4 separate regions of the Homo sapiens genome follow, and all the other regions are reported to be linked to region 4. The links are microRNA targets in miRTarBase. Many come from high-throughput screens and were not tested one by one. Region 4 holds a microRNA gene; each other region holds the end of a gene's coding sequence.
Evidence for each region. The annotated mature microRNA hsa-miR-15a-5p reads UAGCAGCACAUAAUGGUUUGUG and lies in region 4 at 1,435-1,456, opposite strand. An mRNA with a match to its seed (bases 2 to 7 or 8) in the 3' UTR can be bound and repressed. Matches are read on the target gene's strand: a 7mer-m8 pairs with bases 2 to 8, a 7mer-A1 pairs with bases 2 to 7 and ends in A, and an 8mer does both.

Region 1: miRTarBase lists CDCA4 as a target of hsa-miR-15a-5p. Seed matches in the 3' UTR shown: 8mer at 935-942 and 7mer-m8 at 1,394-1,400.
Region 2: the mRNA of SPTLC1 is a reported target of hsa-miR-15a-5p. Seed matches in the 3' UTR shown: 7mer-m8 at 1,372-1,378 and 7mer-m8 at 1,369-1,375.
Region 3: miRTarBase lists CYLD as a target of hsa-miR-15a-5p. The part of its 3' UTR that is shown has no 7-base or 8-base seed match.

The regions. Positions count from the first base shown.
Region 1 is chr14:105,008,507-105,011,670 of GRCh38, reverse strand. It overlaps CDCA4 (cell division cycle associated 4), which reads left to right. Exons shown (of 2, transcript NM_017955.4): 2 at 1-2,098. The coding sequence ends at 467. Among named protein-coding and RNA genes, the nearest start is that of CDCA4, 11 kb to the left of the region's middle.
Region 2 is chr9:92,029,859-92,033,022 of GRCh38, forward strand. SPTLC1 (serine palmitoyltransferase long chain base subunit 1) reads right to left here. Exons shown (of 15, transcript NM_006415.4): 15 at 1,289-2,700. The coding sequence ends at 2,607. Among named protein-coding and RNA genes, the nearest start is that of ROR2, 81 kb to the left of the region's middle.
Region 3 is chr16:50,796,067-50,799,230 of GRCh38, forward strand. It overlaps CYLD (CYLD lysine 63 deubiquitinase), which reads left to right. Exons shown (of 19, transcript NM_001378743.1): 19 at 258-3,164. The coding sequence ends at 442. The region is part of intron 2 of CYLD-AS2 (CYLD antisense RNA 2); the gene reads right to left. Among named protein-coding and RNA genes, the nearest start is that of CYLD-AS2, 5.7 kb to the right of the region's middle.
Region 4 is chr13:50,047,733-50,050,896 of GRCh38, forward strand. It overlaps MIR15A (microRNA 15a), which reads right to left and starts at 1,469; the gene lies at 1,387-1,469. It overlaps DLEU2 (deleted in lymphocytic leukemia 2), which reads right to left. Exons shown (of 14, transcript NR_152566.1): 6 at 1,852-1,930. It overlaps MIR16-1 (microRNA 16-1), which reads right to left and starts at 1,329; the gene lies at 1,241-1,329.

The sequences.
Region 1 (3,164 bases), not on the chromosome of region 4:
CAGAGCGGGCGCCGCTCGACCGCTTGGTCTCCACGGAGATCCTGTGCCGTGCAGCGTGGGGGCAAGAGGGGGCACATCCTGCTCCTGGCTTGGGGGACGGCCACACACAGGGTCCAGTTTCTGACCTTTGCCCAGTCACCTCAGCACAGGCACCAAGGCACCTGCAGAGCAGCGCCTGGGAGATGGATGGCCCTCGAGAAAACAGAGGAAGCTTTCACAAGTCACTTGATCAGATATTTGAAACGCTGGAGACTAAAAACCCCAGCTGCATGGAAGAGCTGTTCTCAGACGTGGACAGCCCCTACTACGACCTGGACACAGTACTGACAGGCATGATGGGGGGTGCCAGGCCGGGCCCCTGCGAAGGGCTCGAGGGCTTGGCTCCGGCCACCCCAGGCCCTAGCTCCAGCTGCAAGTCCGACCTGGGCGAGCTGGACCACGTGGTGGAGATCCTGGTGGAGACCTGAGCAGGAGCCCTGAGTGCTCACAGCCGCCTCTGACGCATTGACACGTGAGCACTGGCTCCCACGGAGGGTGCGCCTGCCGCCAGCGGCCCAGCCTTGCTGCCCTGTCTGCTGATTCTGAGAAATCCCAGAACAGCCCATTACCAGTGGGGCTGCAGCCCTAGGCCCGTCCCACTCACCTCCCCCCTGTGGAGCGCCAGGCAGAGGCTGTTCTGGAAGGCTTCTTGTCTTCTGACGTCCCCACAGCCCTGGGCCCCTCGTGTCTCTTTGTGTCCCCCACTGTAGAGGACGGTGAGCCGCAGCTGCATCAACCTCCTTTTACCTTTAGATAGGTGAATTTTTACAATTCAGTTTTACATGTTTTGGGCAGTATTTTGTCTTAAGATATATTTTTTAAACTTTTTATACCTTATCTCTTTAGATTTTTTCAGCTATTTTCTTAAAAGTATATTTTTTCTATAAACATCCTTTGCTGCTACATTAGAACTTTTATAGCCTAAACAATTGCAGTTGGTGTGTTTCATTTTTTTAAGGTTTAAATAAGGGTTTTTTGTTTTGTTTTGTTTTTTGCAGTGAGCATCACTACAGTCTCAGTCAACAGTGTGAATGTATCATGTTTTACTTTAAATGTGTGTGTGATACTTCTTCATTATGTCCTGCGCTGCAGTGAGACCTGGGTGAAAATCAGGAGCCGCACACAGCCACATCTTCCTAGACCTAAGAGTAAATTATGGAGGATTTTATTTATGTCTATTTATATGTAAATGTCATTGAAGACAAAGGTCAAATATTTGTCTGTTTGTAGATCACAGGCACCAGTTGGTCTTCAGGGACCTCATAGCCCCTCGGTGGTGCCTTCTCAAGGCAGTGTTCCTGGAGGCTCCCATCAGGGTCAGCCCATGCACCTGCCCTGGGTGAGGAAGTAGCATTGCTGCTGGATGAGAAACGCCTGCGCTGCTCTGTTAGACTGGTGCTGAAACAAAAGGTTAAGGCTAGGTTGAAGTCTAGAATGAAAGAAATCTGAATCCATGTCATTCATAACCCCTTGATCTGTAGTGTCATGGGTGCTGCCGCAGGCAGGGAGTGAGCTGGGGGTGCCTGCAGCCTTCCACTCCTGCCCCGCCTCACCCCACATGCTCCCTGTTTCTCATGCTTTCTCTAACTTCCTCACCCCTTAACCAAAAAGGTGTGTTTTCTTTTGTGCATATAGCCATTCTTAAATATCAGTGATGTAAACCTCACTTTATTAAAAAATTATCCAGCAAACAAAATGGGAATGTGGTGTTAGTTACGACCACGGCCTGACCCTCCAGCAACCTTTCTGCAGGATCAGTTCTGCTGTATTATCTGGTGGTGCTTTCTAAGGTGGGGAAAGGAATTGCACTTGGCTGCATTAAATGGACGCTGGGTTACTTTTATTTCCCCCCCCCACAGGGTTGCAGAGCAAATTCTTTTTACATTGTTCAGCGCCCGGCTGGAGTTGGGGGTGTCCACGACCTCTGACAGCCCCCGATGTCGAAAGTTAATCCTCATGGACCCTAGTTTAAAGGGTATGTGTTTTATAGGAATAAATCTAAAGCACTATTTTGTTTCTGTATAGCATTTTTATCTTTTAGAAACATCATTTGTTCAGCATTAGTAGTAGTTGTAGTGCCTGTTTTGGTAGCCTTCAAAATTATAAACTGCTCAGAGAATGTGACTTTTGAGCGCTTTAGGGGTGCTTGGTCGGAAAACAGACTGGGTCTGTGGAAGGACCACAGACAGGAGAGAACAGCTGCTGTGACTTAGAAGTGTAGCCGGAGTCTCATTCCCTGGACTCGCCGTGTTCACCTGTGACACCGTACACCAAAGCCTGCTTGTTTCCACCGTGGTGCGCAGTGGCTGAGTAATCAGCTGTTTTCCAAGCATCATTTCTCTGCAAGTTTAGTCCGTGTGTGTGGCTTTGTTTTTTTTTGTTTTTTTTTTTTCTTTTTTTTTGATGGAGTCTCGCTCTGTCTCCCAGGCTGGAGTGCAGTGGCGCGATCTTGGCTCACCGCAACCTCTGCCTCCCAGGTTCAAGCGATTCTCCTGCTTCAGCCTCCCAAGTAGCTGGGATTACAGGCACCCACCACTACGCCCAGCTAATTTGGTGTATTTTTAGTAGAGACAGGGTTTCACCGTGTTGCCAGGATGGTCTCGAACTCCTGACCTCATGATTCACCTGCCTCAGCCTCCCAAAATGCTAGGATTACAGGCGTGAGCCACCGCGCCTGGCATTCTTGGTTTTTTGACAGGATTTAACTTTTGTTGCCCAGGCTGGAGTGCAATGGCGTGACCTTGGCTCACTGCAACCTCTGCCTCCCAGGTTCAAGCGATTCTCCTGCCTCAGCCTCCCAAGTAGCTGGGATTACAGGCATGTGCCACCACGCCCGGCTAATTTTTATATTTTTAGTAGAGATGGGGTTTCACCATGTTGATGAGACTGGTCTCGAACTCCCAACCTCAGGTGATCCACCTGCCTCGGCCTCCCAAAGTGCTGGGAATATAGGCGTGAGCCACCGCACCTGGCCATGTATGTGGTATTTTTAAGTCTGTAGGTACAAATTGACTTTAATTGGGAAGAAATTTTCCAAGTGTTTAATAATTTTGTTTACAAAATGTTTATTCAGAAACAGAAATACAAATTCCAGTCATCTAAACTTGGCACTGTTCTCTGCGGTT
Region 2 (3,164 bases), not on the chromosome of region 4:
CTGCTTTGTGGAAATAAAATCCTTGAATCACATTTCCTTCTTCCTTCAAATCTCTAGAAAATGTTGCTGTCGAGATGAGTTATTTTATCTGTGTTCCATCATCCTTAAGCTTCCTACTCCTCTTCACCAGGAAATAAGTAAGGAAATGAAGTTTAAGCATCCTCCATAGCTTAACCCATACTGTTAGGTGTACGTTATGAATGTTTTTATTTGATGTCATCATAGGGACAGTGTTTTGGAAAGATGCATGGAGATATTCAGATTTACATGTTGGACATCTCTATCTTCTGGGACTAAGGTTTTATGCCCACAAGGAAAGATGGCATGAGGCCCACACATCAGATGATTATTATTTCATAGACTTAAAGATACATCTTCTCTACCCACATTGTAATATCTCTAATATTGGAAGACATCTTACAGCATAATACAGATAGAATTATTTTCTTCTAGTGGTACATAAAAAAAGTACACATGGTACAATTAGTGAAGTACTGAATTTGATGAAATAACTGGTGTATTTTCTGTCCCAACTTGCCCCAAAGCCCTACTTTTCCTGAAGTTAGAATTTAGTCACAGACAATAAAAAGGTGGTGTGGTTCTCTTCTTCCCTGCGGACAGTCCTGCTGAGTGGAAATGGGCTCCCAATGGTCTCTACACTGCTCACCCCAAGCCACTGCCTTTTAAAACACAGATCATTGGTAGAGCACTCTGGAAACTTCTCACTCTGTAAAAGAGGAATTTGTAACTTGGTCCAGATTTGAGATGACTGTACTTTCTCAGCATTTTGCTTCAGTTTGATCCAAATTTTACTGTTTCTAGTAGACATTTCATCGTGGTGTATATTACTGGATTGTGGTCACTCTATAATTTTAACACAAAAATTTTACTTTTGGTTCCTTTCGTTTACAATGTTGGTTTTAAGGACTGAAATAATGTGCCTGATCCGCCATCTTTCCCAGAAACTCCTGATCATATTTTCAAAAAGTTTATTACAAACATTATTTTGATGTTGCTATTTTCACTTAGAAAGTATTCTAAAAGAAGCTGAACAGTTATTTATGAAAATAATGGCCATGATATTTTTGTAGTCCTATGAGGTCAGCAAGAACCTAGGAAACTTCAGATACTATATATTCTTTGGTTGGATGTGAAAAAAGGAACTAAGAAATTTAATTGTTATTTTCTAAAATAAGACCAAACAACAAAGAATACTACCCCAGTGCAAAAAAGTTAAAATTAAGAGACTATTCTGTTGGATATATTACATATGCAAATAGACTAATAATCAGGAATATAGGTTTATTTCATTAAAAAATAAAACAAAACAAACCAGACTCATCCCCCAAAGAGTACTTTATCCTTTAAAGCAGCAGCAATCACAAGGCACATATGTACAAAATACCTCAAGCAAAATAGAAACTGAACATTCAAAAAGTATGTGTTGTTTAAAAAGATGTTGAAGACCATTTGAGTAATAAGCACAGGTTATAAAAATCACAATTTTATTCTTCTACCTTTAACAAGAGAAGGAATGATGGCATAATATTTATATGCTATATTGTGGCACGTATAACAAACCTTTACACCACATAACCTGGTTTGCTAAAGAAAAAACAGGTAAAGTACTGCTTAAAAATGGTATTTTTAGTGCTTTCACATCTTTTGTAGATATCTGGAATTTGTAAGATGAAAAGAAAAATTCTCTTTTTCCTTGGCTTAGTAAAAGCCTGTAGTTACACGTCCCTAGGCAAACCCACCATACAAAAAAGGAATACATTTGAGATATTCTAAAATATAAAGGATATGATTTATATTATGGGATCAACATAATAACCAACTCTCTTCCTAAAACAGATTAGAGGTGAACACATAAGAAATGTAAAGAAAGGTTAATTACATTAAAATAAAATAGCTTCTGATTTAAATTATTGCTCACTTAGGAAGTATAATGAATATTCTCTGGCTAAGGATGCTCAGATTAGAAATGGTGTGACATCAATATTTAGTGTGTACAAAAGTTCTAAGATTCAAATACAATGCAAAGTTTATAATAATCACACAAAAAGTGTTCCTTTTAGCCACCATTTAGCTTCACACAACGAAGACTGGAAAATACGTGGTTTATTTAGATCTTCAATATAAATTTGTACCACATATGTTGAAGTGTTCCTCTTAGCTTTAATGTTGCAGTCATTTTTCTATGAAATACTAAGGAGTTAAGGAGTGCTTACTGAACCATTACTATTAGAGGGAGGGAAGAGACACTGAAGCTCCAGTTTTAAACGACAACAAAAGAATATAAAATACTAGTATAAGAAAACATTTAAATAGTACTAAATGCACAATTTAAACATCAGTTATACACTGTCATTAGTTTTCCTCTTAAAAAAATCAGTTCCTGGGCTTTTAGATGTGTTTTCTTTTTAAAAAAAATAAGCATCCTTCTCATGGTCACACAATTGGTCCATACTGACACCATTTGGTAACAATCCTATCAAAGATCCACATGTTCTTGCTCTCTTTCAGGCCACTCCATGGCCAGCGGGAGTCTTGAGTCCTCTCTGCGTGTTGTGTGGCAGGAGGCCATGGTCCCGGGACTCTGCCTAGAGCAGGACGGCCTGGGCTACCTCCTTGATGGTGGACGCAGCTCTCTCCAGTTCTTCCTCTGTTTGTTCCACCGTGACCACAACCCGAATGCTGAGAACAGTAAAGGACACAAAGAATTATCTTTGTGGGCCAGGCGCAGTGGCTCACGCCTGTAATCCCAGCACTTTGGAGGCCAAGGCAGGTGGATCACGAGGTCAGGAGATCGAGACCATCCTGGCTAACACAGTGAAACCCCATCTCTGCTAAAAATACCAAAAAATTAGCCAGTGTGGTGGCGGGTGCCTGTAGTCCCAGCTACTTGGGAGGCTGAGGCAGGAGAATGGCGTGAACCTGGGAGGCGGAGCTAGCAGTGAGCCGAGATCGCGCCATTGCACTCCAGCCTGGGCAACAGAGTGAGACTCTGTCTCAAAAAAAAAAAAAAACCAAAAACAAACAAACAGAAAAAAGAATTATCTATGTGAGGTGAGGAACTGCACTCACAGTCAACCATATATGGCCTGAGAGCCAAATCCACTGCCTATTTTTGTAAACAAACCTCTCCTGGCAGTCCTCCC
Region 3 (3,164 bases), not on the chromosome of region 4:
AAGTAGGTTGGGGGCTTACCTCAGAATTCGTGTCCTTTTACCAGGTTTATTCACTGTTGGCCCCAGAATCCTTTCAGAAACCAAGAAATGAGAATATGTCAAGGGTTAAAGGAGGCTTTCACTTCCAGAAATCAGAAGTAAAATAAAGGCTTTTAGAGCCTGAAATTAGCTTTTTGGAAATGATAGGATTATAAAATCACTGGCAAAAGGGTTTAGAACTTGACTGCCCTATAAAGAGTTCTTCCTCTGTGCCATAGGTGGTCAGAATGGCTTCAACATTCCTCAAGTCACCCCATGCCCAGAAGTAGGAGAGTACTTGAAGATGTCTCTGGAAGACCTGCATTCCTTGGACTCCAGGAGAATCCAAGGCTGTGCACGAAGACTGCTTTGTGATGCATATATGTGCATGTACCAGAGTCCAACAATGAGTTTGTACAAATAACTGGGGTCATCGGGAAAGGCAAAGAAACTGAAGGCAGAGTCCTAACGTTGCATCTTATTCGAGCTGGCAGTTCTGTTCACGTCCATTGCCGGCAATGGATGTCTTTGTGGTGATGATCCTTCAGAAAAGGATGCCTCTGTTTAAAAACAAATTGCTTTTGTGTCCCTGAAGTATTTAATAAGAAGCATTTTGCACTCTAGAAAGTATGTTTGTGTTGGTTTTTTAAGAAGTCTAAATGAAGTTATTAATACCTGAAGCTTTAAGTTAAGTGCATTGATCATATGATATTTTTGGAAGCATACAATTTTAATTGTGGAAGTTTAAAGCCTCTTTTAGTCCATTGAGAATGTAAATAAATGTGTCTTCTTTATGGACCAAGGATATGAAATCATTTTTCTTTTGTAGCTAACGGTTGCCTTGAGGAAGAAATAATTTGGTTTTATTAAGAGTCTACTCTCAATCCAGTTATTAGAGATGTACTGAGTTTGATTTGTTAATCCTTTCTATATACTGCTGATCTTGCATGTCTACAATCTGCTCAGTTTTTCTGTGTTTCTGCAATAGTGGTCAGAAAAATACTTAAATTCCCTTAATGGTGTTGTTTTCTATTTGTTCTGGTTTTGAGATAAATGAGTGATTCTGTCCCCAAATGTCCATTTTTGAAGTGATTTTCCTGGAGGATTAGGGTATTTAGCAGTTGAAGCTCTTCATTCATAGTAGTTACTGTCAGCTAACAGGTTTTTTAAGGCTTTTAACTATTAATATTTTATGGAATGGGGCAAAGTAAATTGATGAAAGAATTGGAGTGATAATAGTCCTTTACAAACATACAGTCCATAAGAAAATGAATTTGGCATATAGAATTATTACAATTTCCTGGGAGAGATGGATATTTAAACCTCTATTATTTTAGACAAGACTGTCTAGAACTTAAGTTTGATCTGTCAGCCAGTACTCCCATTAAATTCAGTGTAGTTTCACTTGATAGAATCAGATATGTTATCGAAATGTTAGCAGCAGCTTCATCCTCCTTCTGATTAAAGTAAGTAGAAATGGGATGTTTTGTTTAATAACAGCCATAGTGTGTGTTTAGACCACAGCGGATGTTGTAGACCAGGACCATAGATGATACATGTCAGTGCTGTGGAATGTGCATTCTCTGAGTGTTGTTTTGTGGTATCATTGTCTTTCCTGAATGACTTTCTAACTGTGCAGAAAGGCAGAAAAGTCATCATATGTATATGTCATATGACTTTATAAAATATTTAATGTGACAAAAAGTGGAAAGAATCTTTACAAACCCTGCAATTACTTTTTTAAAGGCACTTTTACTCTTTGGTTTTATCATTCCATTTTGCTAATATTTACTAGCTTTATAAATTACAGTAAGGTACAAAAACTCATCTTGTAATATTTTCATTTTTGAAGTGAAAAAGTACATATATTTTGCACAAGGTTTTATACTGCTAAGTGCTTGGTTGGGGTGGTGAGATGATGATTAGATCAGGGGTGAGGCTGAGAGACTCTGGGTTTAGGGCTAGCCCTGCCTCCATCTCCCTTGGGTAAAATGAAGGGTGTGGGGTAAAAGATGCATAAGGCCTTTTCTAGCTCTGACAGCCTAGAAGTCCAATCACCCTGTAATAAATATGTGTTGAATGAAGAAATGGGTGAATGAGCTTGTCAATGTGATTTTAAAAAATTGACTACCTGGAGGAATGATTAGGAATCTAAATGAAGCCAGCCCTCGGTATCTGCAGGTTTCTCATCCATGGATTCAACCAACTGCAAATGGAAAATACGATTTTTTTTAAAAAAAGGATGGTTACATCCGTATTGAACATGTACAGACTTTTTTCTTGTCATTATTCTCTGAACAATACAAGAACTCTTTATGTAGCATTTACATTTATTAGGTATTATAAGTAATCTAGAGATTATTTAATTAAAATATACAGGAGGATGTGTGTCAGTTATATGCAAATTCTGTACCATTTTGTATCAGGGAATTGAGCATCTTCAGATGTTGGTATCTGCAGGGATCCTGGAACCAAACCCCTGCAGATACTAAGGGCTGACGATCTAGGTAAGACTGGATTTAACAGTTGGAAAAAAAAAAAAAAAAGGAGAGAGAAGACAGTTCCTTTCCTGTAGAAATTAAAACAAAATACAAATTGAGGAAGCTCTGCTACCCAGGCTGTCATGGTAGAGAACTTGAAGAAGACCTGTTTGGATGGACACCTGGTTTCAAAAGTCAGGTGTGGAGACTGTTAAATGGGAGGGCCTCATCCATAAATGATTTCTGGCAACGTCTTCTTCAGGTGGAGCTTGACGTCTTTTTAATGTTACTTGGGGAGGGAGTGCTCATTAAGGGATGCCAGGGCCAGCTCTGGTGGTTCCTGGGGAGGCTGCGTCCTTCCCTGCTTCTGCATGTCATGAGGCAGCAGGAAGGTTTCCCCTGCACCTGTCTGTCCTGGCTCCCTCTGGGTAGCCCCCTACTGTTCTGTGCTTCAGCACAGCCTGGTTTGTCAAGAGGCACATAGTTGGGGCTGGGCTGCATGGCACAGGGGCTTATGTGCCTGCTGGTTATTTAATTTTCAGCCTTAAGTTTTCTTTAATATTTTCCTGTTGGCTATTTAAAGGTTTTGGTTATCTTTTATTCCTTATCTACAATCAAGATGACAATGTAATTGAATTATCTTATTTATAACACGGTTCGTGATTC
Region 4 (3,164 bases):
TCATCCACCCTCCTCGGCCTCCCAAAGTGCTGGGATTACAGGCTTGAGCCACTGTGCCCAGCTCTACTTTTCTTTTCTTTTTTTTTTTTTGTTGAGACAGAGTCTCCCTCTGTCACCCAGGCTGGAGTGCAGTGGTGCGATCTCAGCTCACTGGAAGCTCCGCCTCCCAGGTTCATGCCATTCTCCTGCCTCAGCCTCCCGAGTAGCTGGGACTACAGGCGCCCGCCACCACGCCTGGCTATTTTTTTTGTATTTTTAATAGAGATGGGGTTTCACCGTGTTAGCCAGGATGGTCTTGATCTCCTGACCTGGTGATCCGCCTGCCTCGGCTTCCCAAAGTGCGTGAGCCACCGCACCTGGCTGTCTACTTTTATTTTTAATAAAAAATTTTAAAAATACAAAAAAGTAAAAAAAAAAATTAAATTATGTTGACATTTTATATCAATAAAACTACAATGATAATTTGGTCTTACTCTGAGTTAAATCTTGAATACAAAAAAGTAAACAAAGTAAACAAGACCTTATTTTTGACTTATCAAACAAAAATCTTTGGCTAAGGATTTAAGAAAACATTTTAATAAAAACATGAAAAAAATAGTATACCATTATAAAGTTAGAAGACATAAGACTAAGACCCCAATCTGTGATGTGTAGCAAATTATTTGAGTTTTGTGTTTCCTTAGCTATCCAATGAGTGGGTTGGTCACTTGTAAGGGTTTTTCTACCTTTAAAGTTATGGTTAAGTGTGACGTTTTGACAACCAGAATTTTAGGTATTTAATTCACATATTTTGATGGCTTTTCCCCTTCAGATATAAAGAAATATTCAGAAACAGTACTAAATATTGTCTTCTAAGCTCTGTTCAAAATGCTTAATATATTTTATATTTATCTGTAAAGACATATTTTAAAAGTAATTTCAAAACAAAGGGAAAACTAGAATTTGTTTTATCCCAAGTAAAAATCTGAATTAATGTCTATGTTGAATATAAATGTGCATTAAAATAAATTCCTCTAATGCTGCATAAGCTTTTTAAAAAAACTTGATGGCATTCAATACAATTATTAAATTGCAATTACAGTATTTTAAGAGATGATACATCTGAAAAATTAGTATTAATTCATTTTTACAGAATCATACTAAAAATAACAAGATTATCAATAATACTGAAAAGACTATCAATAAAACTGAAAACACATTAGTAACATTAATATACATTAAAACACAACTGTAGAGTATGGTCAACCTTACTTCAGCAGCACAGTTAATACTGGAGATAATTTTAGAATCTTAACGCCAATATTTACGTGCTGCTAAGGCACTGCTGACATTGCTATCATAAGAGCTATGAATAAAAAGAAATATATTTTCTTCAGAAGATCAGATCCTTGTATTTTTGAGGCAGCACAATATGGCCTGCACCTTTTCAAAATCCACAAACCATTATGTGCTGCTACTTTACTCCAAGGTTTTATTTTTTTTAAACACACATTCGCGCCTAAAGAATATAAAAAATATTTTCTTTCAGGAAAAAAAGAATGCATGTAAAAAAATCTATGTTTAAACATTATAACATTGATGTAATATGCATAATTATTTTTAAGGAGATTTTAAGTAGAATAATAAAACATTTCTACATCAAAAACTTAACTGAAGTCCATTCTGTGCCCAGCACAGTGCTATAGGTTAGGAAACACAAAGAATAAAATGAGGAAAAGAAAAGCATTTATTTGCTATGCCAACTTAACAGGGCAATACAACTAAATGCTTAAACTTTTGAATATATTCAATATATGAAGTTATTTTTCCTTGTATAAACAAACAAGTAAATTTATAAAATTTGATCTTTACCTTGGTAAAAGGAGAATTTACAAACATTTTGTTCCTTGCAGTACACCTTTCAAAAGACATCTTCATCAAATAGGTAAGACTTCACATCAAGGGAAAAACATGAAATGACATACAAGAGCTCAGTTTCAATAAACTTAAGCTAGCAAAATGCAAATATACTTTTAAAGAAAAATACTTTAATTCTAAATGTTAATTTTATTAAATATCTAATTAAGACATTTTAATTCCAAATATAGTTAAGAAAAAAAGCTCTAAACAAACTAATTCTCCCTTAAATAATTTGTTATTAATAATCTAAATATTTTACTTTCAACATTGATCTTCATACTAGAAGTTCTCTTAGAGTTGGATATCATTTGATACAGTAATTCTAAAATATGAATCCTTAAGTAATTCTAAAATATGAATCCTTGGGATGATGAGTTAATTTGGTACCCTGAGATGAGAAATAAAACAAATCCCATAGCTCTTAATCTTCCTATTCCCTGTTTCTGGCCCATTTACCAGGTAAGGAAGAAACTCCTAGTTTCCACTTTCTCAGATGTAGAAATGAAATTCCTTTTCTCTAAAAGATATCAGAAAATTGCCACCACTCTAGTGGTGCCACCATTCAAGCCTGGACAATCTTTTTTGCCCCATGTTCTCATCATTAAAATGACTATGCTAAAGTTACATCTATTACAGAATAGTAAGGTGATGTACACAACCAAAGCACTAAAATTTGCTCTTCCATTCTAATATCTAATTACTTATACAAAGCACAGGGTCACATTCCATATGAAATTTTTCTGAGTATTTTTCCCATTAATAAAAAATATATGTAGCTAATCTCCTATCTAAGCAACCTGGATTTCACATATAACTCTGCTCCTTATTGTCTCAAGTTTCTGCACAACGTTTTTTAAATTTTTATTTTTTCTTTTTTTAAGAGAGTAGTTTCCGTATCTTTTAGAGAAAAAGAAATTCATTTCTACATCTGAGTAAGTGGAAACTTTAGGAGTATACTTCCTTACCTGGTAAATGGACCGGAAATAGGTAGGGAATAGGAAGATCAAGAGCTACAGGATTTGTTTTACTTCTCATCTCAGGGTACTCTGTTGCCCAGGATGGGGTACAGTGCCATGATCGTAGCTCACTGCAGCCTTGACCTCCTGGGCTTAAGTGATCAGTCCACCTTAGCCTCCCAAGTAGCTGGGACTACAAGTGCACACACCACCATGCACAGCTCTTTACATTTTTATTTTATTGTAGAGACAAGGTCTTGCTATGTTGCCTAGGATGTCTTGAACTCCTGGCCTCAAGCAATCCTCCTG